Regions from separate parts of the Homo sapiens genome. Here all the other regions are linked to region 1. Evidence: fine-mapped expression QTL. A gene starts in region 1. Each other region holds a variant in brackets. All regions are shown on one strand. Distances are from middle to middle. Region 1 holds the start of DCUN1D2 (defective in cullin neddylation 1 domain containing 2). Region 2 has its middle 21 kb from the start of TFDP1. Region 3 overlaps ADPRHL1 (ADP-ribosylhydrolase like 1).

Evidence for each region.
Region 2: its variant is fine-mapped to the expression of DCUN1D2 in whole blood (TOPMed, PIP above 0.99).
Region 3: its variant is fine-mapped to the expression of DCUN1D2 in whole blood (TOPMed, PIP 0.98).

The regions. Positions count from the first base shown.
Region 1 is chr13:113,484,505-113,494,237 of GRCh38, reverse strand. DCUN1D2 (defective in cullin neddylation 1 domain containing 2) reads left to right here and starts at 3,527. Exons shown (of 7, transcript NM_001014283.2): 1 at 3,527-3,571. The coding sequence starts at 3,569. It overlaps SLC9D1 (solute carrier family 9 member D1), which reads right to left and starts at 3,217. Exons shown (of 13, transcript NM_017905.6): 1 at 2,965-3,217. RefSeq lists a silencer at 2,907-3,826 and an enhancer at 4,057-4,356.
Region 2 is chr13:113,559,339-113,569,071 of GRCh38, reverse strand. No RefSeq gene overlaps it. Among named protein-coding and RNA genes, the nearest start is that of TFDP1, 21 kb to the left of the region's middle. The variant G/T (reference allele first, on the strand shown) is at 5,623.
Region 3 is chr13:113,412,107-113,421,839 of GRCh38, reverse strand. The region is part of intron 7 of ADPRHL1 (ADP-ribosylhydrolase like 1); the gene reads left to right. Among named protein-coding and RNA genes, the nearest start is that of ADPRHL1, 37 kb to the left of the region's middle. RefSeq lists enhancers at 85-797, 2,990-3,990, 3,991-4,991. The variant G/C (reference allele first, on the strand shown) is at 5,483.

The sequences.
Region 1 (9,733 bases):
CCTACCACTTACGCAGATTTACAGTTTAAAGTAAACAACAACAAAATATTAACCTAACCATTCTTCATAGCAGCATCCAATGGACTGTTACTCAGGAATTCCTACTCAACCATCACATATTACAAAGATTCCCCGACCTGGAAACCTGGTTACTAAAAGATGTATCTATATATCTATACTTTCATTTCACTGCTAACCCAAATTCTAATTGGTTTAATCGAGTTTCCCAGGCAAAGTAGGTTAGATGCAGCAAAAGTAAGGGCAGCATTTCTGGAGGCAGCATTCTGCCCAAACCATGAAATGGCAGCCACAGAAAGAGACAAACCTTATGCAAAACAAACAGGAGAACTAAAAAAGCCTGGAGGCCAGATGACTCGGTGAAGGCTCAGCGACTGTCTGCACCCCAGCAGGTCCTGAAGACAGTACTGTGTTAGACAACAGTACTGATCAGAATTACAAGCAAAAGTCACCAAGAAAAGACTATATTCTGGTTAGAAAGTGTTCAATTCAAAACATTCTTGGAGACTGACTCCCAAAAGGAGAAGCACACTCCACAGAGAATTCACTTACCTAGAACAGGTAACTTCCTAACAAGATAGGATAAATGATAATGTGCTGTTCCAATCACTCAATTTTATGTTAGTTTCAATACAACTTTAAGTACACGTGTACAACTTTAAGTACACATTTACCACCTTAAAAACAAACAATGAGGCAATCACTTAGTCATGCCTAGCCATATAGCTGAGCTGTTATTTTAATGACTCACTCAACTGCTAAGCTTCTCTCGGTTGGTCCAACGGAGCTAAATAAATCAACAGCTACTTCACAAGTGAACTTTTAGTATTTTCCAGAACCAAGACAGAAATCTGAGATGCTTTGCTTACACTTCCCAGTTTCCCCAAAAGATCCCAAAAAGTGATTCTTTGATGGATTTTATGCTTCAGAAAAATAAGTTTCAACACAGCTCATGTGTGAATGACACCTCTATGTTCATTTCTGGTTCCTTCCTCAATCAGGTTCCTAAAATTAGTTGTCCCTCTAAGGGAGCTATAATTTTTATGAGAAACCTTTGAGGATTTTAGTTGTAGTTATACTAAAATTTCCCACTGAAACATACTCATAACATGAAACTGAAATTATTTATGGACCCTTAAAATACAAATCACCTTTATTCAAACTCATTTCATTTTATCTTCAAACTTGCCTCCAAAATCCTACTGACTACTAAATTGTAGCATGTTTTTTGAGCAAATTAGTAAACATCTTTAGCTGTTCTAGTTATTAAAAAGACACTTTGGATTCCTGTAATGTGTTTTTTTTGTTGTTGTTGCTGTTTGAGACGGAGTTTTGCTCTTGTCACCCAGGCTGGAGTGCAGTGTTGTGATCTCAGCTCACTGCAACCTTTGCCTCCCGGGTTCAAGCAATTCTCCTGCCTCAGCCTCCCAAGTAGCTGGAATTACAGGCGCTCGCCACCACACCCAGCTAATTTTTGTATTTTTAGTAGAGACGGTGTTTTGCCATGTTGGCCAGGCTGGTCTCAAACTCCTGACCTCAGGTGATCCACCCACCTCAGCCTCCCAAAGTGCTGGGATTACTTTTTAAATAATGAATTCTTAGAATTTCTGCATCTTGAGCAATTGATACACATAACAATGCGGATGTATCTCAAGGCTGAGTGAAAAAAAATCTCAATTTTATTGAGAAGACACACAGGTGTAGATTCACACTCACTAGTGCATGTATAGTTGGTGCAATCTCAACAGGTCAGGGGATTTGATCAAAGAAAATTCCCCACATATACTATGGTTTTGCAAGGTGCTACCATTGGAGAAAACAGGGCAAAGGCACTCTGTAGGATTTCTCTGTATTACTCCTTACAACTTCATGTGATCTACAACCATCTCAAAATAAAAAGGTTTTCAAATTCTACCTAAGACCAGGTGCGGTGGTTAATGCCACTGCTGTATTACGACACAATTATCTGTATTCCCAGCGCTCTGGGAGGCTGAGGTGGGCGAACTGCTTGAGGTCAGGAGTTGGAGATCATCCTGGGCAACACAGCAAGACCCTGTCTCTATTAAAAATGAAATAATTAGCCGGGCGTGATGCTCCCTGTGGCCCCAGCTCCTGGGGAGGCTGAGGCGGGAGAATCGCTTGAGCCTTGACCAGCCACTGCACTCCAGCCTGGGCGACAGCAAAACTCTGTCTCAACAACCACAAAAAAGCTTTAGAATATTTAAGTCAAGCCTGTAGGAGAAAAAAACTACAAATATTTCACAAGTAATCCAATCATTAAGACACTCCTTTTGAAAAAGCCGGTAAATAAGATAAATTTGGAAGACAGAATAATCAGAAAAACAGGCAGTGAATAGGGACCCGATACGCAGCGGTCTTGCTTCCCCCGCGCAGGCGTCCACACCCTGGGTCATGGACACCGTGAGGAGCCGTTAGGAGTCACAGGAGGGGGGCCAGGGACAGGGCTGCATCTCTGCGGCCGGCCCTGGAGGCCCCGAGTCCACCCGGGCGGCCAGGGTGGGAACGCAGGTTCCATTCCAGGTTAGAACGTGGGCCTCAGCGAAGAGCGCCTAGGCAAGGCCTGGAGGAGCGGGACCCCAGGCCACACAGACCACCCGACCCCGGGAGACAATACCTGCAAGAAAAGGGGAGCCCCGAGGAGAGAGAGAGGGGAGGTGAGCCCCAGGGAGGGAGAGAGAGGAGGGGAGCCCCAGGGAGGGAGGGAAGGAAGGAAGGGGACCCCTGGGAAGGGAAGAAGGGAATGGGAGCCCCGGGGAGGGAGAGAGGGGAGCCCCAGGGAGGGAGGGAAGGAAGGAAGGGGACCCTTGGGAAGGGAAGAAGGGAAGGTGAGCCCCGGGGAGGGAGAGAGGGGAGGGGAGCCCCAGGGAGGGAGGGAAGGAAGGGGACCCCGGGAAAGAGCCCCGGATGGACGGGCCTGGTGCTCACCGGGACGCAGGGATCCGCGCCCGCCCGTCCGGCCCGAGCATCACCGTTCCGCGGCCTGGGCCGGGCTCTGAGGCGCCAGGACCCGAGGGGCGGAGGGGGACGCTGTCTCCCGCCTCGGAGCGCAGCGCCGGAGGGCTTCCTTGCATCCCTTCCCAGGCGGGACCAGGGAGGCCGGGAGGCCGGGAGTCCGGGAGGGAGCGGCCGCCGCCCTGCCCAGCACCGCCCCCGCTCAGCCAAGCCGACCCGGACTCCCGCCCAGCCGCAGTCACTGCCCCCTTTAAGAGGCGGGGCGTGGGCGGGTCCCGTCGGCCGCGGGCGGCGAGCACTTCCTGGCCGGCGTGGGGCCTGGCAGCCGCAGGCTGGCGTTGGACCCCGCAGGGGCGAGCCAAGGCCCTCGCAGAGGGCTGGACGCGCAGGGGCTGTGGGGCGCGAGCTCCCGTGGGCCCCCGGGCGGCGCTGAGCATGCCGGGAGTGGGAGTCCCCGCGGCCGGCTCCCGGCACTGCCCCGGAGCCGAGGGCCGCGGCCGTCCGAGGACGAGGGCGGAGCCGCCGCCGCGCCTGCGCAGAAGGCCGGGGCCGGCCAGAAGCGGGCGGCGCGGGGGAGATGGTAGGTGGCCCGGCGTCGCCTCTGCCCGTCGGGGTCGGGGTCGGGGTCGGGCCCCAAGGTCGGCGCAGGCGGCGCGCTGGATGTGGGAGGCCGAGCCCAGCGAGCTGCGCGGGGCGTTCCGCGTGGATCCGAGGGAGGAACGCGCCGCGGGCCCGCGAGCCGGAGCGGTGGCGTCGGAGGCGCGGGACCGCGGGGAGCGCGGGTTTGACCCGGAGCCGCGAGGGACGACCGGGAGTGAGCGGAGGGCGGGGGCCGGGAGGAACTGTAGGGGCCTTGGGGCAGGGGCCGGGGCCGAGCGGGAACCCAGGCCGGGGGCTTCCCAGGGCGGCTTCGAAACGGGCAGTCGAGGCGGGCGAGGGCTCGGCTGCTCCTGCGGGCGTCTGTGCAGATGCTGAGGCTGTTGACCAAAACAGCGCAAGGAAGGAATCCGCGAGAAGCTCAGATTCGCGGGGGAGGCCCTGCTGCCGGGAGGGGAGGGAGAGGCACAGCGGGGCCCTAGCGCGGGCTCTAGCCGGGAGCTGTAGCGTGGCTGTAGGTGTGCATCTGTGGAGCTGGTAGAGTTCCGCAGCGCAGGAGGGAGGCTGCTGGAGGTGCACATCAGTTACTTTGAAATGTGGTGGAAATGGTGATGGATGGGATTTATTCAGTCCACATCGGTTCAGAGGCCAGCAAGGTGCTGCTGGGTGTGACTGGTGCTGGGCCAGGCATGATCTTGGCGTTGAGGGAGTTGATGCCCCAGCAGGGGAGACAGGCACCAGATGCACAATTGTTTGACCACAGTTGGGACAAAGGCTAAGGCACGGGTTCCAGGAACTTGTAGGATGCGGCTGTGGGAGTGGTGTCAGATGCTGAGGGTGTGAGTTGAACTGTGGAGAATTTCTCTGGAAATTAGCCAGAGAAAAAGTGAGGTTCCGGGGCAGCCAGCCGTGTGCGGCTCCAGGCAGAAGAAACAGAATGCACAGACCCTTAGTGGTAGGCGATGATGACGTATAGGAGCTGAAAGATTGTCCTGGCTAAGGCACAGAGAGCCACCGGAGAAGGGACACGGTAACGTGTAGAGGGGAGTGGAGGGTGAGGACAAGCTTCAGGATGGGAGAAGAGCCACAAAGGAGACTGAGAGGGGGCTGGTAGGAGAAACCAGGACACTAGAATGTGTCGAAACCAAGAGGATGGAGTTTAAAGGAGGAGGGAGCCATCAGCAGTGCTGAACAAAAGAGCAGCTGAAAAGATCCCACTGACCGCAGCAGCCGAGCTTTTGTGACCTTTAGGGGTCACTGCGGAGGCCGGGCTGGAGCCAGGTAGCCTGAGTTAGGATGCACACCTGGGCAGGTAGAGATAGCTTGCTCCAGCTTTTAGGAGGACAGGGGCAGAGTGGACAGGAACTTAGTTTGGGGAAAACTTGAACATGTTCAGGATGCTGGAGAGGAGCGTTCCACTGCTGCCGAGGTTGGAGATCCAAGAGCAGGGATGAATTTAACTCCCCCTCCCTCTAGCGTGCTGTATACCGAAACAGAGTGAAAGTGATCCATAAACTTACGTAGTTTATTCGATCAACATGATTGGCCCGCCAGCCCCGGGTAAGTTGACCCTAAGGACATTTTAAGAGTAATTTCTTTCCATTTTACATATGGGTATCCTTGGTGCCAGATTATATGAGTCGTATTTCACAAGGTCACAATTAAAGTGTTTGAGACTTTTTTATAGTTTAGAGATTTTATTTGCTGTTTCCACTGGATTGTCCAGATTTTTATTTCAAGAATTGTGTACATTTTAACAGAAATAATGAAACCTAGAAAATGCCTTCCCCCCACCCCATGTACACACTTTAAAAGCTGGCCTTAATAATTTAATTTGCATGATGTGGTAAGCCTCAGTGAAGGTTGTGAGCTTGAAGGGCGGCCCTAGTTCCAGTGTATCCACCTTGATTAGATTGACCTGGGTTCAGTCCTGTCTGGGTGCACTCGAAGCTTCTTGCCAACGTCTGGGCCTTTGTTAATTTGACCTGGGTTCAGTCCTCTCTTGGTGCACTCAAAGCTTACTGCCAATGTCTGGGCCTTTGTAAATTTGATCTGGGTTTAGTCCTGTCTAGAGGGACTCGGCTTCCTTCTCTCCCCTGTAGTTTTTTAGTTGACGAGCCTTTTTGTTTCCTAAGAAGCTTTATGCCAGTTCCCTTTTTCACAAGAGGTAACTTGGGTCTCTCAGTCACTTTTGGACATGAAGCACCTAGTCTTTAGACTTAGCTATCGATCATTGCTTTAATCACTGTTATTTTATGGAGAAACCTGTAAGGGGTGACATCAAATGATTGCAGCTTTGTTGACTGACCAGAGGCCTGTTAATGGACTAAGCCTAGACCCCAAAGCTTCTCTTGCTCCTTCAGAACCAGTGCCTTGGCACCACCGTGTGGTTCAGGGTTTACTGGAGTATCTTGTGACATCAGACAATTTGAGTAGATTGCAGGGGGCTCTTCGTGTTTCTGGATACCGACTTCTGTCCACTCTAGCTAACAGTAGTGATTCAAAGCCATTTTGAGTGGCCTGGATCCATGTGCTCCTGCATCTGTTCTTCTAGAGTTCCAAGAAATTAGGCTGCTGGTGTTATGGTGTTGTCACACATTAGGGGAGGCTTCAAGGGGTTATCGGCAGGAGCTCAAGATCAGACACCATCATATCTTCCAGATTTGCACATTCCTGGTGTGGAGTCATCAGTTGTATAATGCTGGTTAAATAATTCAGTCGCCGAAGAGTATATTAGTCTGCTGATTGGTCTTGGAGGGTCTGAGGGTACAATGTTGAATTTTTTTAGGTGAAATTCATATAACATAAAATTAACTATTTTAAAGTGTACAATTCAGTGGTGTTTAGTACGTTCACAAATTTGTGGAACCACTACCTCTATCTAGTCCTAAAACATTTTTGTCACCCCGAACGATAACTGTACCCATTAGCAGTCACTCCCAACTCCTCCCTTGCCCCAGCCCCTGGCTACCACTCACCTTTCTCTCTATATAGATGTGCCCATTCTGGATATTTCATATAAGTGAAATCGTACACTGTGTGGCTGGAATCGCACACTGTGCGGCTGGACTCATGCACTGTGCGGCTGGAGTCGTGCACCGTGTGGCTGGACTCGTGCACTGTGGCTGGAGTCGTACACTGTGCAGCTGGAGTCGTGCGCTGTGTGGATGGAATCATACACTGTGTGGCTTCTTGTGCCTGGTTTCTTTTACTCAGTGTCAAAAGTTCATCCATGTGGCATGTATCAATACTTCATTCCTTTTTATGGCCGAATTATGTTCCGTTATATGGATATAGTAAATGTTGTTGTATAACCATGGCAGATTTTTAAATCTAGCAACGATGACCACTTCCATAATAAGGGCGTCATGGCTGTTCCTGGTGGTGGACCATTTTGGGGGCTGCACTTCTGTCTTTATCCTAAGGTTTTTGAGGTAATTCTTGGCTTTGCTCACCCTCCCTTGGGAAGGCTGTCAACTTCATAAAAAGACTCTAGCTGTATCTTTTGTCAGCTTACGGTCAGAGACTATGGGATCTGCCTTAATTTAGCTAAATTTGATCTTACCAGAGAATACAACCTTGAATTTTTTGTTTAGTTCTTTTCAAAAGCTCAGTTTCAGGAAATAATGTAGTGAATATGTATTCCATTTATTCCTCTAGAATCTAGATCGGGGTCGGCAAACTACAGCCCACAGGCTAGCTGTCTGTTTTTGTAAATTGAGTTTTATTGGAACACAGCCTACGGCTGTCTGCTTTGGCAACAGACCCACAGGCCTGAGATGGCAGAGATGGCTGCTGTCTGGAACATTAAGAGACAAAGTTGGCTGAATGAAGGCTTCTGATCTTCTTCATCCGTTCTTAATCTGAGTTCTACCTTCCCCTTGTGAGGACTTTGCAGATGGGCTTAAGCCATCTGTGAAACCCCTGAAATTTTATGCAAAGCTGCCTGCACGTGTGAGGGCCATATATGTTTTCCTGGAGGGCGGACCTGTGACTCCTCAGATTCCAAAAGGGATCCAAGACTCCCAAATGCTCAACACTCATTGTTTGAGTAGCCGAAATGTTAATTGCCTAGCATCACCTGAATTAGCCATTCTCTTAAGTGTTTAGTCTCAGGAGTTCGATGTGGTTTTTGGGTTTGTTTTTTGTTTTCTAACTTTTAGGTTCAGGGGTACATGTGCAGGTTTGTTATAAAGGTCAACTGTGTGTCATGGGAGTTGGTGTACAGATTATGTCGTCAACCAGGTACTAAGCACAGTAGCCGGTGGGTAGTTTTGGGATCCTCTCCCTCCTGCCACCCTCAAGCAGGCCCTGGTGTCTGTTGGTCCTTTTTTGTGTCCACGCCTGCTCAGTGTTCAGCTCCCACTTACAAGTGAGAACATGTGGCATTTGGTTTTCTGTTCCTGCGCCAGTTCACTTAGGAAAATGGCCTCCAGCTCCATCCATGTTGCTGCAAAGGACACAATCTCGGTCCTTTTTATGGCTATGTAGTATGCCATGGTATATATGTAGCACATTTCCTATATGTTTTTAAGAATGATTGGAACCCCAGTCATTCTTAAATGAGAGTTCTTGTTTGTGTGGGTAATAGTCATCAATATTGACCATATTAGAAATTAAAATAGTATTAAAATATTTCTATAGTTAATTAGCAATAAAAACCCATTACATTTTTGCAAATATCTTAATGTCTGGCTTGATAAAAGATAGGCTCTCGAATCTCGCGTTCATTCCTGTGATATCACAGGCCTTGCAGCCCACGGAGGCCTCTGCTGTGCACTCTGTGAGAATGAGAGTGAGCAAGGCTGGTGGCGGCTTAGGACGCTCGGGAAGGTAGTTCTGTGGGACTCCTGAAAGGCCTCAGGACCCAGGATCCCAGATGCACACGGGAGAGTATGTATCTGGACAGCGTTATCTTAATGCCTCTGCAGAATCGTCCTCTGGTATTTTGGCATCAGCATGCTTTTTGATTGCCTGTCTCAAAAAAAAAAAAACTTCTGGAAGCTGGCTCTGCTGTACGTGGTTGGCATTTTGGTGAGGAATTGGTATGTGTGAGGGGACATTGAACTTTGTGAGGAGCCGCAGAAGACGTTTCCTCAGGTTTTAGGCCAGAAGGGTCTGTATCTGTACCACTTCTGAGCTGCTGGTAAGGTTTTAGATCTTATGAAAACGGATTTTCCTAACTAATCGTGTTTTCTTTGCTGTGGCACTGGGGAAGCTTGGAGCCTGATTTCCAGCTCTTACATGTGACAGGCACGTCCTTGTACTAATGGCACCCCTTCCTTATCCACACCTTGTTATCCTTCTATATACTTTTGTTAAGTTATGTTATAAATCATTCCATGTGTTTTTATAAGTTGTCTCATCTTTATTTGAACAAGATTGAGTATAAATCGTTTTGAGTAAAAAATTTCCTGCTTATATTATTGTGTAAAGCATTTTTGTAAAACGTTAGCATCCAGTGGATTCTAGGGTCTGTTTGGATTTAGAGAAGTTAGTGTATCACTTTCTTTTCCAGTGTTGCTTTTATCAGGTTACTTTATTTATTTATTTATTTATTTATTTATTTATTGAGATAGAGTCTCGCCCTGTCGCCCAGGCTGGAGTGCAGTGGCACGATCTCAGCTCGCTGCAATCTCCACCTCCCAGGTTCAAGTGATTCTCCTGCCTCAGCCTCCCAAGTAGCTGGGACTATAGGCGCATGCCACCACACCCAGCTAATTTTTGTATTTTTAGTAGAGATGGGGTTTCTCCATGTTGGCCAGGATGGTCTTGAACTCCTGACCTCAGGTGATCCGCCTCAGCCTCCCAAAGTGCTGGGATTACATCATCAAGTTACTTTAGATAAGTGGAAACTCAGCCCTCCTATATCTGAAAGTGTCAAGATGTTACTTTGTTTCATTATATACTATATATAGTACAGCTATTTGGCAGTTTTGTTATTTATTGCCTGCCCAGAGCCTCTGTCCTATTTTTTCATTTTATTTCTGTCTGGTATACAGAGGCATTCTTGTTATTAGTATTATTGTTTCCATTTAATCATAACAGGTTTTTTTGTGCCTGCTTGTGAAATTTTCATAAATTACTTTTAACGCTATTCTTAGTTATTTGTGTACATTTTCATCAATGTGATTCTGTGATTTAA
Region 2 (9,733 bases), 75 kb before region 1:
GTAGGAGTGGAAATAAATGGAAGAGAACACAGGGGGTCTTAGGGTGCTGGGGAAGCTGTGTTTTATTCATCTGGGTCTAGGTTAAATAGGTGAGTCCAATGAAAATTCATCAAGCTGTAAACTTGTGATATTTGCACCTTTCTATACATATACAATACAGCAATAAACAGTAAGAAACCAATCCAAAAGAAATCAAACCAATATCCAATTTAACAATAGAACAAAATATGAAATACAAGGAACAACTCTAATGAAAAATGCGTACAACACAATACTATAAAATACAACTGAAAGACAGAAGAACTAAATACATAAAGGTATATGCTGTTCACGGCTCAGAAGAGTCAGTGTTGTCGATGGGCCAATATGTATACACATGAAAAGATTCTTGGTCTCATTAATTATCAGGGAGCTACAGATCAAGACCACAATCAGAAATCATTTTATGCCCATATGACAGGCAAACTTTAAGAAGTCTGACAATAGCAAATACTGGGAAGGCTGTGGGCCAATTACATCTCTTACACATGGCCAGTAGGAGTGTGAGTTGATACAGCCACTTTTGAAAATAATTTGGCACAATCCTATTAGGTTGAATATTTGCACACCCTGCTACCCAACAATTCCACATTCAGGACCTGTCCCAGGGATCATGCTCAGCATCAATGTTTACGCTAACAAAAAAGCAGAAGGCAGCTCAAATGTTCAACTGTAGGACACCAGATAAGCAAAGTGAGGAGTATTCCCACAATAGGGTAACAAGTGAGAATGAATGAAGTAAAATGTCCCTAACGCCCACATATATCATATCCTTCTTATAAAGTTTAAAAACAAAAAGACAAAACTCATGTATGCATAATATATATATATATATATATATATATTTATGTATATATGTATGTATATAAGAAAAGAGACAAGCTAGAAAGGATAACAAGTGTCAAAGTCAGAGTAGTTCTTTGGTTACTTTCGGGGGGAAAACTTAGGGAGTTGTGTCTCATCATGTTCTTGGGTAGGGCTGTGGTTACACTAGGATTTGTTATGTTCCATGGACATATAAGACAGGAGATAGAACTGGACCATGCATGCAAGAGTGCAGCTGCCACTGAAACAAAGATAAGGATCAACCCTGTCTTCCTACCTGAGGGCAAGCTCTCCTCATTGTCAGTCCTTCCAAATCCTGCCCACTTCCAGGGCTCACCTGACCGCCGCATACAGACCTTCACCTGTATGGCCTCTCCTCTACCACACGTCAGCAAACCGGAGAAGTGAAGGGGATCTTACAGCTACTTTTACTTCTTACTTTATATAATTTTGTTAACAGTGAAAATTATAGGCACTTTTTCTGGCATTTTTCTGTATTTCCATATAAATATATAAAACAAAATCTTAGTTTTAAAAATCTAGAGAACATGGGGCCAGGCACAGTGGCTCACGCCTGTAATCCCAGCACTTTGGGAGGCTGAGGCAGGCGGATCACGAGGTCAGGAGATCGAGACCATCCTGGCTAACACGGTGAAACCCCGTCACTACTAAAAATACAAAAAATTAGCCGGGCGTCTTGGCGGGCGCCTGTAGTCCCAGCTACTCCAGAGGCTGAGGCAGGAGAATGGCGTCAACCCAGGAGGCGGAGCTTGCAGTGAGCCGCGATCGCACCACTGCACTCCAGCCTGGGCGACAGAGCAAGACTCCGTCTCAAAAAAAAAAAAAAAAAAAAAATCTAGAGAACATGTTTTAGTACAGAAGTCGGAAACTGGTGGTTTACCCTACCCAGGATTAAAAAGAAAAAAAGCAAAGAACATTGCCAACATTTAAAAATCACAAAATTTTATACAGAAGTCCATATTTCTGGCTTTTTAAAAATCAGATGATCTGGCCAGTGTTTGTGCATTCCTACTTAGCAGCTGCCTGCCAAGGCTGAGCGGCACCAAGTTCCCACCCCTCTGATGCCACACTCAGCTCATTCGCGCCACCTGCCTGGCCGCGGCATTTGTTCACCAATTTCTCTTTACCATCTTCCCTTCCCTTACGTGGTGCGCATGTTTGTCTCTGTGTCCTGACATGAAGGAAGCCTGTTCTTAGTAGCTCAGGGTCATCATCTCCTTGGGCAGATGAGGACTCTAACAAGAATCCAGGGAAATGACCGCACACCCTGGCACAGAGGTCACCCCAAGCCAGGCTCCAAGTGAGCCATCAGTAGACAGGGCTCCAAGGGTGAGGGCAGGAGGTGGCTGAGTTGCTGTCAGGGGTTGTCGGCCTAAAGAGCTGAGATCTGTCCTACTGGGAGGCGGGAAAATAAATCCATGATGGAACCAGACCATATTTCACAGGGAGACACAGGCTGGTGGTGATAGGCACGGCCGGAGGAGACCACCTGACGTTTTGGTACAGGCTGAAAAAGAAACAATTCAGGGTTCAGCCTTTTATAGAAAATTATCAAACCAACGTTTAAAAGAAACATTCTCACTCAAAACCTGAGACTCACCTTGTCTGAGCTCAAATCACAGTGTTTGAGCCTCAGGGGTGGGCAAGAAAACTGGGTCAGGATCAGACAGGGCTGCAGAGTGGGGTGGGGACCGTGGCAACACCAGGCTGGGCCCAGGCAATTCGGAACCGCCCTGCATGGCATAATGTCCTCAGGACACTGACCAGAAACCGGACCGCAAAAAGAAAGAAAGTCGCACTCAACAGGGAATTCGGGTTCCCTCTGGCCTGCACCTTTTCCTTCTTTCCGTCTTCTGGTTATTAAAGGGGTGAATTACCTACGTCGGGCAGGGCTGTGGCGGTGGCTCCGAGCCCCGCTGTCGCCCGCCCCGGCCCCAGACCTAGAACCTCACGCTGGCTTCTGAGCGCCAGGGCCCTGCAGGTCTCTGTGATGCACCCAGAGAGCAAATGTCCACGCCAGCTCAGACCAGACAGACTGAGGACAAAACAGGCTCTGCTGACAAGCGCACACGAGGCTCAGGGACCACGGGTGCTTTCAGTCAGGCCTGAGCCGCGAAGGGCTGAGCAGTGCGCACCGGAAGAGGTGAGGGCCCTGCCGGAAAGCCACGGACAGAAAGACGCCCTCGGAAGACCAGGACGACAGCAGTGCCGCGCGGGAAGACGGCACCATGATCTACACTGGCAGAAGCTCTGCCCACCTGAGTATGAGGGTCTGAGGGGAAAGTGTGAGGGGACGGTCTGAGGGTCTGAGGGGAGGGTCTGAGAGGACAGACTGAGGGTCTGAGAAGAAGGTCTGAGGGTCTGAGGGAAGGGTTGGGGGGTCTGAGAGGAGGGTCTCTGCGTCTGAGGGGAGGCTCTGTGTGTCTGAGGGGACGGTCTGTGGGTCTGAGAGGAGCGTCCAAGGGTCTGAGGGGAGCATCTGAGGGGAGGGTCTGCGGGTGTCTTGGGAGGGTCTGAGGGAAGGGTCTCAGGGTCTGAGGGTCTGAGGGGGGCGGTCTGAGGGTCTGGGAGGAGGGTCGTTGGGTCTGAGAGGAAGATTGAGGGTCTGAAGGGAGAGTCTGAGGGTGTGAGCGGAGGCTCTGAGGGTGTAGAAGAGGATCTGTGGGTCTGAGCCGAGGGTCTGAGGGTACGAGGGTTGGAGAGGAGGGTCTATAGGTCTGAGGGGAATGTCAGAGGGGAGGGTCGGAGGGTCTGTGAGGAGGGTCTGAGGGTCTGAGCGGAGCATCTGTGGGTCTGAGGGGAGAGAGTCTGCGGGTCTGAGAGGAAGGGGAGGGTCTGAGGGGCGGGTCTGTGTTCTGAGAGGAGGGTCTGTGTGTCTGAGGGGACGGTCTGTGGGTCTGAGGGGAGGGTCTGTGGGTCTGAGGGGAGTGTCTGAGGGTCTGAGCGGAGCATCTGTGGGTCTGAGCGGAGCATCTGTGGGTCTGAGGGGAGAGAGTCTGCGGGTCTGAGAGGAAGGGGAGGGTCTGAGGGGCGGGTCTGTGTTCTGAGAGGAGGGTCTCAGGGTCTGAGTGTGGGGTTTGAGGGTCTAAGAAGAGGGTCCAAGGCTCTGAGCAGAGAGTCTATGGGTCTGAGGAGAGGTTACGAGGGCCTGAGAAGAGGGTCTGAGCGTCCGAGGGGAGGGTCTGAGGGTGTGAGGATCTGATGGGAAGGTGTGTGGGTCTGAAAGGAGGGTCCATGGGTCTGAGGGGCGGGTCTGTGGGTTTGAGTGGAGGGTGTGGGGTTTGGAGAAGAGGGGCTGAGGGCCCGAGGGGAGGGTCTGAGGGGTGTATCTGGGGGTCTGTTGGGAGGGTCCCTTCATCTGAGGGGATGGTCTGAGGCTCGAGGGGAGCGGCTGCAGGTCTGACGGGAGGGTCCGTGGGTCTGAGAGGAGGGTCTGACAGAAAGGTCTGTGGGTATGAAGGGAGGGCCTGAGGATAGTTTGAGGGGAGCATCTGAAGGAAGAGGAGGGTTTGAAGGGAGGGGAGGGTCTGTGGATCTATGGGAAGTGGCTGTGGGTTGGGGAGGGTCTGCGGGTCTGAGGGGAGGGTCTGAAGGTAGGGATAGTCCGTGGGTCTGTGGGGAAGGTCTGTGGGGTGGGGAGGTTATGGGTCTGAGGGGAAGGTCTCCGAGTCTGTGGGAAGGGTCTGTGGGTCTGAGGGGACGGCTTCGGGTCTGTGGATATGTTGGGGGGGTCTGTGGGAAGTGTCTCTCGGTCTGTGGAAAGGGTCTGTGGGGCCGAGGGAAGCACTTGTGGGTCTTTGCGGATGATCTGAGGGGTGGATCTCTCAGGCTCTGAGTTAACTGCAGACGTGGTAAGTGCTGCGGAGGAGGTGTTAGGAGCTACAAAAATGCCACAGAGAGAGACCTCGCAATGTTGTTGTCGGGAAAGTTGATCCAAGAAAGTGTCGTGGATTTAAGATCTCAGGGATGAGTGGAGAGAGACAGCTGGGGTCGTGTGGACCGGAGGGAATTGGCGAGAAGTTCTTTAAGTTTGATGGAGGACTCTGAAATTTATCTTCAGAGTGAGTGGGAGCTGAGGAAGAGTTTGGGGCAAGTGGATGGCTCTTTGTTGTTGTTGTTTTTAACTTTTTGTTTTGAATGAATTTGAGACTTACTAAAAAGTTGCAGAAATAGTACCCAGAGTTCCCACATAATCCTCCCTGGCTTCCCTCATATCCGTGTCCAGCATGGCCACGACACAGATATTAAACCCAGCACCCAGTGTGACACCGTGGCCCATGCCTGTAATCCCACAATTTTGGGAGAGCAAGGCAGGAGGATCACTTGAGCCCAGGAGTTCAAGACCAGCCTGGGCAACACAATGAGGTCTCATCTCTCCAAAAAATAAAATCAAATTACCCGGGTGTGGTGGTGTGCGCCTGTGGTCCCAGCTACTTGAGTGGGGAGGATCGCTTGAGCCCAGGAGCTGGAGGCTGCAGTGAGTCATGATTGTACCACTGCACTCCAGCCTGGGTGACAGAGCCAGACCCTGTGTCAGCCCTAACCATCCTTGTCCTGGGGCCTGGGCATGGATTTTGCTGTCTCGTGTTCTCAGGACTGTATGAAGTCAAGCCCATTTGGCAAGCATCCTGTGGAGGTAAGGCTGTCTCTCAGTGGCTCCTGAGCTGATGTGTCCAACTACAGGTCCAGGTGGTGTCTGCCGAGTCTCCTGGTCAAATTGCCGTCCTTCCTCTGTAG[G/T]GGATAATCGTCCTGGAGACACTGGGAGACCAAATCCTGATTCTCCTGGAACTTCTCTGATTTTGGCATCCATGGGGGTCTTGTCAGCGGCAATCAGTTCCGTGGACTTTGCCTCGTGGTGATTTTCTGTTTCCCCCTTTCCTCTGGCATTTATCCATCGAGGTTCTCCTGCAGGGAAGAGCAGTGGGTCCTTCTTCCCCGTTTGCGTGTTGACATGGTCAGTGACGACAGCAGTGTGAGCTTGCATGCATTTATTTTATTCTACAGTTTGCAATCAGCACGGCCATTGTGCATCTTGTTGCTCACACGACCCAAGGTTGGCCCCTATGTCATCTCAGGGAATGACATTGACAGATTTACAGTTTAAAGCCCCCGCTTGCAGTGTGGGAGTGGGGTGTAACTGGGCAGGGATGGACGCAGTGAGGTAAGGCCCAGACTTCCCATGGTTACAATGTCATCTCAGTGACTAATGAGGAGCCGAGAGCTTCCTCAGTATTGAAAGCCCTTCTTCGCTGACCTAGCCCTGGGTAGAATGTGGGTTTAAAAAGCCTAATGTGGTACATGCTTGGGTCCCTCTGATGTTCTAGAAACAAAACCTGCTTTCCTTGAGACTTGCTTTCTTGTATTTGCTTGAAGACAACGCGACCTCTCAGCGTGGCAATCCCAGAATCAGGTCACTGGACAACTTGTTAATTTTGAGCACGGTGACTGGGATTTCAAGGTAGAGACTTGGTCCACCCGCCGGCTTTCAAGAGTGAGGAGCATGGTGCTGCCTTCTAACTATGCTTTTTAACAGGATTCGGTTTGCAGTGCCACAAACAAAGTGAGCCACTGGGAGGCAGCAGAGGCCTTGGAGGGGAGGTGCATCTGGCAGCCACAGAGCTCATTGCGGGACCACCCACAGGCACGCGGAGCATCTTTGCCTTGTGGAGCCTGGCACCAGGACTGCCGGGAGGGGAAGAGGCTCAGCCCCCACACCCGGGGAACCTATGCCACACCGGGGCCCTCTCCAGCCTCACTGGCAGTGTCTCTGGGACCACTCCCCAGATTACTTGTCCTGGGGTCAGCTCGGGCAGGGAGGCAGAGTAGCCCTACAAGCCCTCTGCAAACACACACATGCTCTCTCCACAAACAGAGTAGAACCGCACCACATGGATTCTGCATAACACCACACTGGGGCCCTGGATGTTTCCCCCTCATCCACCTTGTTTTGAATGTAGAACGAAGTCCAAAGTTTTTCTTCTAACAGTTCCAGGCAGGCTGGCATATCGAATCAATCCAAACCCAGTCTGCCTGTCCTCAGATCCCCTCTGCACCACAAAGCCCAGGCAGTATGATCACCCTTTGCCAGAGGCCCTCACAGCTGGGCCTTCACCTGCGACCTGGGTTCCACACACTGCTTTATCTGCATGAAGCTGGGGGGCAGAATTGGCCAACGAGAGGTGCAGCCACACGGGAGTGGCCTGGGCCTTCGGGAAAGCCTTTAGACATTGTGTGGACTGTAGAGAAGCTCCTGGGGCCCAGTGCCAGTGTTGCTCGTGCTTGGGCACCTCTCCTGCCGCATCATCCCTGGCAGTGACGTCCACCGGCTCTCAGCCCAGATGGGGAGACCATCGGTCTTTATCTCTGAGTAAAACTCAATCTGCTTCCACCTGCTGGTGGGGATTCTGTGGTCTGCAACTGAGCCTCTGAAACCGAGGGCAGGATAGGAGGGACGTGGAGTGGGCGCTACGTGGTGGGTGCTTGACACTCCTTCCTGGTTGTGTGACCGTGAGCCAGTGACAGCCTAAGCAGAGGGAGCTGTGATGAAGCTTGTAGCTGTAGCGCGCCTGGGCCCCAGCCTTGCAGCTCCAGGGGTGGAGCTCTTCCAGGAACAAACTCTTCTCTGCCACTCTGTGGACAGAAGGCCCTGTCCACGTAGGGGGCTCTCACTGCCATTCACATGCCTTGACCCTTCACTCCCTTCGTGAGATTCAGAGCAGCCCTTCTGAGAACAAAGCGCAGTGAACATCTCTGGAGACACCAAAGTCCCCTCGAGTGAGAAACAGACTCCTGAACGCAGGTTTTCAGGATGTGAACCCCGGCCCAGAGCCTTACCCATGGATGAGGTGCCCATGCAGTCCCCAGGGTGCCTTTGACCTCTTATTCTGTAACTTCACATTTCAATTAAAGTGTTGAGGGAAGATGGCCATGACCAACACCAACTCAAAGCTGTCCATCAATACAGTGAAGAAAACAGCCTCTCAAGTCAGCTTTCAGTGTGTGAAAGGTGGGCAGCCCTATTACAGGGCTTTCTCTGTGAATGTCACTGTCCTGTTGAGCAGCCTTGAGTGAACAACTGGACCTCCAGGGCCACCATTTCCTCCCTTGCAAACCGTCATGCTAGTCAGCCCCGGCGTCCAGGACCGACTCACAAGGCCACGTCTTGGTGAGCAGCGGGGTCTTGGCCGCCGTTCGGCTGGGTAGGAAGTGCTCTCTGGCTTCTGCAGCTGGCTCACTTTCTGTATGCCACCCACCCACAGGCCCGTGGGACCCGTCTGTCTGTCCTTGGGCTGTCTCCCTGTGCCCGGGATGTGGCAGCAGTGGCCAGTGTCCTGAGGCCCTGCCCTCTGTGAAGCTACCACGTCCTGGCAGCTGGGCCCTTCTCTTGCCCTCCGGTCCCAACTCTGAAGTCTGAGAAGCTTTGTCCAGCCCCTCCCAGCTTCTGCCTACATTGCATGCCTGCCTCCCCTTTCGCCCTCTCAGCAGAGTCTGCAAATGTTCCTGCTGCTTAGGCTTTTGTAAAACAAACACCAGGAACACAGGAAACTAGGTTTGTCCTGGGGTAGGGGCTGCCAAGAACACCCTGAGATGCTGGGGGAGGAAATGCCCATCTCAAAACCTGCGCAACCCCGTCCAGACCTGCGACCCTGTCCAGACCCACGACCCTGTCCAGACCTTCGCGACCCCGTCCAGACCTGTGCGACCCCATCCAGACCTGTGCAACCCCGTCCAGACCCGCGACCCCGTCCAGACCCGCGACCCGGTCCAAAGCTGTGCGACCCCATCCAGACCTGCGACCCCGTCCAGACCTGCGACCCCGTCCAGACCCGTGACCCCATCCAGACCCTCGACCCGGTCCAAAGCTGTGCGACCCCGTCCAGACCTGCGACCCCGTCCAGACCTGCGACCCCGTCCAGACCCGTGACCCCGTCCAGACCCGCGACCCCGTCCAGACCCTCGACCCGGTCCAAAGCTGTGCGACCCCGTCCAGACCTGCGACCCCGTCCAGACCTGCGACCCCGTCCAGACCCGTGACCCCATCCAGACCTGCGACCCCATCCAGACCCACGACCCTGTCCAGACCCGCGACCCCGTCCAGACCTGCGTGTGCTCAGGGGGCGCAAGCCAACACTGACACCTGAAGCGAGCATGGGCTTAGAGAGAAAGCCCCCCAGAAATGTGCTCTTTTCCCACGGGGTGCAGGTGACACCTGCTGGGACACATCGGCTTATGGACACATTGGCTCGTAGGCACGTCTCACCCCAGACCACTGAAGCAGCGGAGAGACTTCAGTGATAAATCACCCCCTTTATCAACCTTTAAATTTGAAACAGTGATGCCCCCCTTCACCCCACCCTTTTTTTTTTCTTTTTGAGATGGAGTCTCGCTCTGTCTCCCAGGCTGGAGTGCACTGCCGCAGTCTCGACTCACTGCAACCTCTGCCTCCCAAGTTCAAGTGATTCTCCTGCCTCAGGCTCCCGAGTAGCTGTGACTACAGGCGGTGCCACCACGCCTGGCTAATTTTTTGTATTTTTAGTACAGATGGGTTTTCACCATGTTAGCCAGGATGGTCTCGATCTCCTGACCTCGTGATCTGCCCGCCTCGGCCTCCCAAAATGCTGGGATGACAGGCGTGAGCCACCGCACCTGCCAGTGACACCCTTTTTTTGTAATCCTTCACATAGACAACAGCTACATGTATCCCTTTTCAATTATTTCCTCACAGCCCCTCGTACTCCCCTTGCCTCTAGTTCTTGGGTCTGTTTCTCTGGGCCACACTTCATCTTATTCATAGATCATGGAATAATCTAGTTAGATTGTGAAAGGAAAGATTCCAGTTACACACCCA
Region 3 (9,733 bases), 72 kb after region 1:
CTCAGGGAGAGAAGGCACTGGGGCAGAAAGCCTGGTTGGTTGGAATCTCTGTGGGCATCCAAAATACAAGCCCTACCCCCACGGGCGTCTTCTTCTATGGGATGATTTGAAAGGGGAAAGTGGTGATGTCTTTATGCTCCCACTTAGGATTCCTGTGTGAGTGGACTGGCAAGAGAGGCTGGTGGACTTCACAGGTGGGGGCCACGGACTCCCAGCTCCCAGGTGCATTGGGTCCAGGCTTCCCGGGCCAGCCCCGCCAACCACTTCCAGGCGCCTCACTCCCCGGCCGCCTCCCCTTGATGGAAATGACCCCTGCATTCATTCAGTGCAAGGAGCAGGCGTGTCCCAGGGGTAGAGGTGTCCTGGGGGTAGGCATGTCCCGGGGATGGGCGTGTCCCAGGGATGGGGGTGTCCCCAGGGGTAGACGTGTTCTGGGGGTGGGCAAGTCCCGGGGGTGGGCGTGTCCCAGGGGTAGAGGTGTCCCGGGAGTGGGCGTGTCCCGGGGGTGGGCGTGTCCCGGGGTGGGCGTGTCCCGGGAGTGGGCGTGTCCCGGGGGTAGAGGTGTCCCGGGGTGGGCGTGTCCCTGGGGTGGGCGTGTCCCGGGGGTAGAGGTGTCCTGGGGGTGGGCGTGTCCCGGGGGTAGGGGTGTCCCAGGGGTAGGCGTGTCCTGGGGGTGGGTCTGTCCTGGGGATGTGCGTGTCCCGGGGGTGGGTCTGTCCTGGGGATAGGCATGTCCTGGGGGTAGGGATGTCCTGGGGATAGGCATGTCCTGGGGGTAGGGATGTCCCAGGGTAGGCATGTTGGCGGGGGGTAGGGGTGTCCCAGGGGTAGGCATGTCCCAGGGGTTGGCGGTCCTGGGGGGTGGGCGTGTCCCAGGGCGTGTCGGGGGGGGTAGGGTTGTCCCAGGGGTGGGCATGTCCCAGGGGTAGTGGTGTCCCGGGGTGAGCGGGTCCCGGGGGTGGGCGGGTCCTGGGGCTAGGTGTGTCCCAGGGGTAGAGGTGTCCCAGGGATAGGGACACGCTTTGCTTTTTCCATAGAGATGCCCCGTTCGTTTTGTGGGAAGTGTAGTCCATGCTGATGGAGGAATCCGTGGCCTTCTATGCTGCAGCAATGTGGCTCCGTGCTGAGCTTCCGAATAACTGGACTAACTGTGCTGCTACTGGTGCTTTAAGTCAGAAGAACCAGAGAGACAGGCACACGGGGGCGAAGGGCCTCACGTCACACACGTCCATGGAGTGTGGTCCCAGCACCCGTGGGTGTGGGGAAATTAACTGAGAATTACCTTTCAGGAAAAGAAACCCAATTAAGGTAAGTCGGAACTGTTGCTAGCATAAGTAACACGGTCGTAGTACCTGTTTTGCCCGCTTACCGGAAAGTGGGCTTCCCTCTCCACCCTGCTGTATGGAAGAGAAGGCCAGCTCGCATGAGCAGGGCGCGGCTGCATTCAAACAGGGTGGACTCGGTCTCCATCCGCAAATCAAACCCCTCCGTGAGAATCAGAAAGTGAGTCTATTTACAAACTGATTATAGATTAAAACACACAAACACAAAATCCACAAGCATCGTAAACAAAAGCTGGCAGTGCCTTGCTTCACTTTCCTGTTACAGAGACACCCAAAAGTTGAAAAGAAAAAGCCAAAGAAAGCACTGAGGGGACACTGAGCCAACTCTGCTGTTTAAAACGGCACCGGCAGGTTTCATTTTTGCGATAAAAATGACGTGTGCACAGCTTCGCGAATCCAAATGCTGTTAAAGGCGGCGTGTGGGGAAAGCTGCTTCCAACCACCCAGATAACACGGTCACGGTCGCCTAAGCCTCCTTCCAGGAGCCTCCTCACACACCCCCCGAGCTGTGTGCCTGTGTGAGACACACCTGCTTATGTGAGATAACAAGGCCATGCTCTCCTCCCAGGAGCCTCCTCCACACACACACCCTGGCTGTCCACCTGTATGTGAGACACACCTGCATGTGTGTGCTATGCCACACACACTATTTCTTTCCCCAAACAGGAAGCATGGTATATGTCATGGTTTGCTTTTGGCTGTTTTCATTAAACTAGGTTTTAAAATATTATCTGTATCACCATACATAGACCAATCTGCGCCTTTTTAACTGCTGCCTAGTATTCCATTGTACTCCTGTGCCATAATTCAAATACCCCATGGATGTGGCTCTCAGTGGTTTCCATCGCGTGAGTGGCATTTGCAAACACCTGCTCTTATGGCGACTTCCAGTGTTGCTCCCCAGCTCTTCTGAAAAGGACTTAGTCTCTCCCTACAGCGCAGCGATGCTGTATTTCATTCTAGGATTCATTTTTGTATTTAATTTTTCTGAAATTGTGGTGCATCTTATATTTTATGGTGTCCATAGTTTAAGTGATGGAGTTTTTATTTTTCTTTCTCCAAGACATTCTTATGAAATAAGGTGTGGCCAGGTGGCTCAGGCTTGTAATCCCAGCACTTTGGGAGGCTGAGGCGGGAGGATCGCTTGAGCTTAGGAGTTTGAGACCAGCCTGGGCAACATGGCAAAACCCCATCTCTACAAAAAAAAAAAAAAAAATACAAAAATTAGCTGGGTATGGTGTTGGCGCCTGTAGTCCCAGCTCCTTGGGAGACTGAGGTGGGAGGATTGCCAGAGCCTGAGAGGTTGAGGTTGCCGTGAGGTGAGATCACATCACTGTACTCCAGACTGGGTAACACAGTAAGACCCTGAAAAAAAAAAGAAAGAAAGAAAAAAGAAAGGGAGGGAGGGAAGAAGGAAGGAAGGAGGGAGTGAAGGAAGGAGAAGAAGGAAGGGAAGGGGAGGGGAAGGGGAAGAAAGGAAGGAAGGGAGGGAGGAAGGGAGGGAGGGAGGGAGGGAAGGAAAAGAGGGCACATTATACAACCTCTTAGGCCCAGCAAGGTGTAGCTCCCCAGGGGTTCTTCTCTGGGAGCATCAGTGTTGCACATCCCTGTGGATCCGCATCTCTTGCAAGACATCAGGCACCAGGAAGGGGCAGGCAGGAGGATGAGTGCCTCTCACTCCCAGATGGCAGACAAGGGTGCTTCAGAGGAAGGTGGGGTCCAGAATATGCCCATTCTCAGCCTGAAGCTATTGGCAGACACCTTTCTCTCAGGCCCACGGATGTGAGCTCTGAAGCCAGGACTTGGGATGGAGAGTTCCAATCGTGGCTGAGAAAGGACATGTGTGTCCTCATGAACACACCACACAGAAGTCACACACTAGGAACATGTGCCATGTGGGAATATGAGCATGTCAGTAACACACACATGTTTAGACTTCAGGCTGATTTAGATGAATCCGTTTTCCCAAACTCTTTGATTAGAGATTTTGCATTTATATTTAAAATTATTGTGTCCAGTGTTTTCATATCTGAAAGCCATGGCAGAGCTGTCCTTCCTTTCCCACGTTGGAGGAAGCGGATCCAGGGAGGCTCGGTGACTTGAGTGGGCAGGGCAGCCGCTCAGAGCACCCAGCCGAGGAAGTGGCGAAGCCCAGCCCCCGTCAGACCGAGAACCATGCTGCTGCAGGCTCCCTAATGGCCAGCCATGCAGCAGGTGGCATTTGAATGTTATTTCCCCTGTCTATTCCATGCTCCACTAGAAGCGGGGCCCTTTTTACTACCCCCATTTTGTAGACAAGGAAACTAAGATTCAGGGGGTCTGAGTATTTCTCCCAGAGCTGCAGTTCATGAGCACAGAGTAGCTTTTAAACCCGACGCATCCGAAAACCACACTCAAGCCTTCTCCCCTTCCCCTAATTCTGGAAGACCTCACCACCACCACAGCCCTCAGCAAACCCTGGCGATTGCATAACCTCAGGCCCAAGCTGCCAGAAGCCAATGCCACCTGTTTTGGCTGTGGGTATAAAAATTAATAAAATATCAGCTGATAAAATTGGTAATACCCAAACTGATGTTCAATCCAAACATCTGTGCTTTAAAAACTCCATCATTGAAATGCATTCCAAAGGTCCCATTAGGTTGGAAATAACTGGAATCTCAGTGCAGGCACTGCAGCTCCCCTGGTAAAAATCCCTCGTGTGTAAACGCATTTCCAGTTAACACACAGAAGCTTCCCTGGTTAAAATCCCTGGTGTGTAAACGCATTTCCAGTTAACACACAGAAATAAGTTATCAGCTCACTTAGCCTGTTGCGGGAAAAGCATTCACATGAGTCTCAAAGAACAGCCTGAGACCGTCTCGGGATTCGTGTGCCACACCCCGAGCAGCGGCTGCTGGTCAGCAAACAAGGGCTGAGACAGACAAAGGCAGGGATAGCGCCTGATCTGGGACAGACAGACAAAGGCAGGGACCGCGCCTGATCTGGGACAGACAGACAAAGGCAGGGACTGCGCCTGATCTGGGGCACTCTGTGTCTGGCACCACACACATCGCGAACGTTCTGTCTGATGGCCACAGGGGCGGTCCCCAGGGTCTGAACCATCGTGTGGCCCTGTGGGCAGCATCTCCCTGCCTTCCCCATCCTCCTTGTACCCTGAGAAGGGCAATCGCCCAGGACCCCCCACTCTGGCTCTCCCTCGGGCAAGACAGGCTGCACGACCTGGGGCCCTGGTGGTGCCGGCGGGGACCATGACCAGCCTGCAGATTGGGGGGACAGCCTTGTCTTGTCCCACACACCAGGAAACCAGAGAGCACAGAGTCCCCGGGGCCCTGCCAGTGGGGTGCTGGTGCATCCGGGGTTCCGCAAAGCATCGCCTCTCCCAGCAGCCGTCTGTGCTGTCACGGTCCTTGAATGACACCTGTCATGACGCAGCTTTGCTGTCTCTCTCTCCTATCTTAATGGTTCACTTTTAAGTTTGTTTCAAAAAAACTAGCTCCGACAACTCCCACGCCCCTTTGCCCAGGATCAGCAGCCGTTAATATTTTCCCTCATCTCTCACTGCACACACTCGTGCATTCGCACGCACACCCTCGCACATATGAGCACGCACACACAATTGTTTCTGAAACATTTGAGAATAACCTGCCGACCCTATATCCTCTCACCATAAATATTTCAGATGAAATTCCTCAGAAAAGACAGGCTCTTCTGTAACCACTGTTTGCTTATTCAAAATCGGAATTTAACCTTCAATAACGCTATTATCCAACATAACAGCATCCTGTTGCAATATAATATACTATATTGTGTTTTTATTATGTGTTAGAAATTGTGCCTACTGCTTCATCGGTTTCCTTTATAATCTATATGTTTGTAGCACAAATTGGTGACAGAAGCTCACTAACCCGATACCCTGTATGTCCCACAGGTACTGAGGGACCCTAGGCAGTTGCTGTAATTAGGCGGCAGGCAAGCATCCCTGGAACCCTCTGCTGACTTACTCATGTCTCAGGCCTGGGAGAGCATCCAGCGCTTATGGCCTCAGTCAGCCTGGGATGGACAGTGTCCCCATTATCAGTCACAGCCGGCCGACTAGACATCCCTTCGTTGGTCACTGCCGGTTTACCAGACGCCCCTTT[G/C]TGGGTCCCAGCTAAGTCAGTCACATATAAGATCTTATGTAGGTCACAAAAAGATGTTCAGGTCAAGGCCTTGGGGTATCCTAGCCCAAAAGTCCACATCGACCATTAGCCAGATTTATTTCCAGGAAATACAGATACTCAGGTTCTCCAGCTGATTCATTAGTACAGTCTGAGCTATTCCCCACCTAGTTACAAAAAATCAACAGGGAGCAGTTAGCAAACACTTGTTCTCGGCTTTACTAGATAGACGGTGACCGTTGCAATGATGCTCAGAAGCTGCTGGGGAGGGGATTGGCCAGATCAGCTCTGCCGCCGCCTGGGGGCCACTCTCGGCCACCCCACGGGATCCCAGCCGGGCCCCTGGCCTTCCAGGATTTTTAGAAAATACTCATCCCTTGGGGTTAGATTTTCTTTTTCATAAATCTAATATTAGATTCTTTAGTAATCTCTCCTCAGCCTTTGGGCTAAGATCAAGTATAGATTTATTTGTAAAATGTTAGGAGCCTCAAATTAAAGGGATCTGTGTTATTTAAAACCAATTTTAAAAAAACTACTAAGGAGGCGAGCTTGCTTCTCTCTCTCTCTCTTTTTTTTTTTTTTTTTTTTTGAGATGGAGTCTCACTCTGTCACCCAGGCTGGAGTGAAGTGGCACGATCTCAGCTCACTGCAACCTCTGCTTCCTGGGTTCAAGTGATTCTCCTGCCTTAGCCTCCTGAGTAGCTGGGACTACAGGTACACACCACTGTGCCCAGCTAATTTTTGTGTTTTTAGTAGAGTTGCGGTTTCACCCTGTTGGCCAGACTGGCCTCGAACTCCTGACCTCGTGATCCGCCTGCCTCGGCCTCCCAAAGTGCTGGGATTACAGGCATGAGCCACCGCACCCAGCCCTTCTCTTTTTATAACACTAATTCGGTGGACCCTGCCTGGTCGCCTGGAGCCGGCCACTGAGCCCACGCCTGGCTGGCCTCTGGGCAGAACATTTCCTGTCATCAGTAGAGCAGCTGGGCCATGGAGGCCACTTATTCAATGCCTTTGGTTAAACCCTTTCCAGGTCCACACTCTGCTTGGGGACCACATCGCGGGCAGGCGTTTCTCACCCTGCCCCACCCGGACACGGGCAGGTCCGCGTCTCCAGAAGGGCTCTCGTCCCTCTAGGCTGACCAGCAAGAACCCCAGGAGCCCAAAGGTGCAGCCCCAGTGTCTCTGTCCATGAGCTGTGGAAGGGACTCTGCCACCGCAGCTGCCAAACGGCCCCTCCCCTCTCCTCACCTGCCCCAGGGGGTTGCTGGGCGCTGGCTACCTAGGGAGGTGTCGCCCTCCCTGATCTTCATGGCTTCAGGGGAAAATGGGCACAGAACAAGCAGCCATAAAAACAGAAGAGGCTGAGCTGGGCATGGTGGCTCATGCCTGTAATCCCAGCACTTTGGGAGGCTGAGGGGCATGGATCATGAGGTCAGGAGTTCGAAACCAGCCTAGCCAACATGGTGAAACCTCATCTCTAAAAAAATACAAAAATTAGCTGGGCGTGGTGGCGGGCCCCTGTAATCCCAGCTACTTGGGAGGCTGAGGCAGGAGAATGGCTTGAACCCGGGAGGCGGAGCTTGCAGTGAGCCGAGATCACGCCATTGCACTCCAGCCTGAGTGACAGAGAAAGACTCCATCTAAAAAAAAAAAAAAACAGAAAACAGAAGACCCCTGCTCAGCACACTCAGGGAGATGTGCAGAGGCACGTGGCCCTGCCCCTGGAAGAGGAGCATTGGCACCACAGCGACAAGAGCAGTTCCACAGGCACAGATGGAGCCACAGCCAGGATGTGTGCCCCCAGACAGGCCTGTAGTGCCCTGAGAGCATATCGGGGAGGCCGGGACTGAGCTGTAGAGGGGAGGGAAGCCGGGGGCTGAGCCGCAGAGGGCAGGGAGGCTGGGGACTGAGGGAGGGAGGGTGGGGGCCAATCTGCCAAGGGGAGGAAGGGGGGGCGGCTCCAGGCTCATCCGCAGAGGGGCAGGAAATGGCAGTGCAGGCCTCTGGTGTTGATGGAGGCCCAGGACATGTTTTCTAAGCGCTGTTGGCCGAGGGCATCCAAGTGTCCCTGTCAGAAACATGTGGAGGCTGGCACAGGGATGTGTGTGACATGGCTGAGGCTGGTCCGTGTTCTGAGCAGGCTCCTGGAACAGCCAGACAGTTGCAGGCCCAGCTGCCACGTGAAACCGGCCCTGCCCTTCTCTCAGAGGAGGAAACTGCGGCTGAGGGTGTTCCCTGCCGCAGGGCCAGGCTCGGGTGAGCCCAGCACAGCCACTGACTGGGCAGAACAGTGACCTCCAGGCCCTGCTGGCCAGAAAGTCCCCAGCAAAGAACCTGCCAACAGGGGCTGCTGTCCATATCATGGTGGGCCCGGGTGTGTCTCCTGCGCTGTGATGGCCTCTAGTCTCATTGTATTTTCAAACGACCTCTCTGGCTGGCCAGAGCCACCAACAACTAAATTAGGAAAGCCGGGCACCCTGCTGTTTATATTGGCCCCTGGGAGGAAGACATTCCATTCCCTGTGGGTTCTGCAGCTTGTCCAAGTGCTGAGGGGACGCTGAGGGAGGCCCGGTCTCGCCCCGCACTGCTGGGCGGGCAGCGGTCACACAGGGCAGCCCAGACTCCGCCAGCGCAGCTCTGACCGGGGGCCTTTTCAGGAGGCTTTGAGGGGTGGGGCTGACGGCCCAAGGGGCAGCACTGGCTCCAGCGCATGAGGACGCGTTCACTCAGCAGCAAGGTGTGCAGCAGGGGTGGGAAAGGGCGAGAGGCCCACCTTCACAGCAAGTGAAGGCCCCGATCACAGGGCGCCTCGGGAGACACGCAGAGCCCCACGCGGGAGTCGCCGAAAGTCCTGGGCCCCCCTCTCAGTCCATGACTTGGGGGCGTTCCTGGCGTCCACGCTGTTCCCCTTTGTGGGGACATAGAGGTCTGTGTGGGTCACCGTGGGGCTCACAGAGCTGGGCCTCTGGGAAAGGCTCCCTGAGGTGGGGGCATCTGAGCCGGGTTGTGAAGGATGAATAGGAGCTCGTCAGGGAGGCAGCGAGGCTGTTCCAGGCTGAAGGGCACAGCGAGGTTGGGCGTGGAGTGGACAAACAGGGTGGAGGCTGGAGCTGGCAGAAAAGGGGGTGGCCAGGAGAGAAACAGGGTTGTGCAGTGGGTGAACCGAGTTCTGCGAGGCGCTGTTGGCGGTGGGTGAACCGAGCTCTGCGAGGAGCTGTTGGCGGTGGGTGAACCGAGCTCTGCGGGGCGCTGTTGGCGGTGGGTGAACCGAGCTCTGCGGGGCGCTGTTGGCGGTGGGTGAACCGAGCTCTGCGGGGCGCTGTTGGCGGTGGGTGAACCGAGCTCTGCGGGGCGCTGTTGGCGGTGGGTGAACCGAGCTCTGCGGGGCACTGTTGGCGGTGGGTGAACCGAGTTCTGCGGGGTGCTGTTGGCGGTGGGTGAACCGAGCTCTGCGGGGCGCTGTTGGCGGTGGGTGAACCGAGCTCTGCGGGGCGCTGTTGGCGGTGGGTGAACCGAGTTCTGCGGGGTGCTGTTGGCGGTGGGTGAACCGAGTTCTGCGGGGCGCTGTTGGCGGTGGGTGAACCGAGCTCCGCGGGGCACTGTTGGCGGTGGGTGAACTGAGCCTCCGGGGCACTGTTGGCGGTGGGTGAACCGAGCCTCCACGGGGGCTGTTCGCCACCCACGGGTCTTCTGCCAGCCCGCCCGGCTGTGCCCAACGCTGCTCTGGACTCGGGAAAGTAGAGACCAGAACCAACAGGGGTCCCGCCCATGCAGGGGCTCTGCTCTAGTGGGGAGCTGGGCAGAAACAGGGGTGACTTGTTGAAAAGTGCACTCGGATCTTAGAAAATTATAGAGCTGTGGCTGGGCGCGGTGGCTCACGCCTGTCATCCCAGCACTTTGGGAGGCCGAGGCAGGCGGATCACGAGGTCAGGAGATCGAGACCATCCTGGCTAACATGGTGAAACCCCGTCTCTACTAAAAAATACAAAAAATTAGCCGGGCGTGGTGGCGGGCGCCTGTAGTCCCAGCTACTCGGGAGGCTGAGGCAGGAGAATGCTGTGAACCTGGGAGGCGGAGCTTGCAGTGAGTCGAGATCGCGCCACTGCAGTCCAGCCTGGGCGACAGAGCAAGACTCCGTCCCAAAAAAAAAGCAAATTATAGTGCTGTGACAGTAGTCACCCGGGATGTGCCAGCAGCAGCAGCACACGCTGAGCTGGGGGCTCCCAGAAT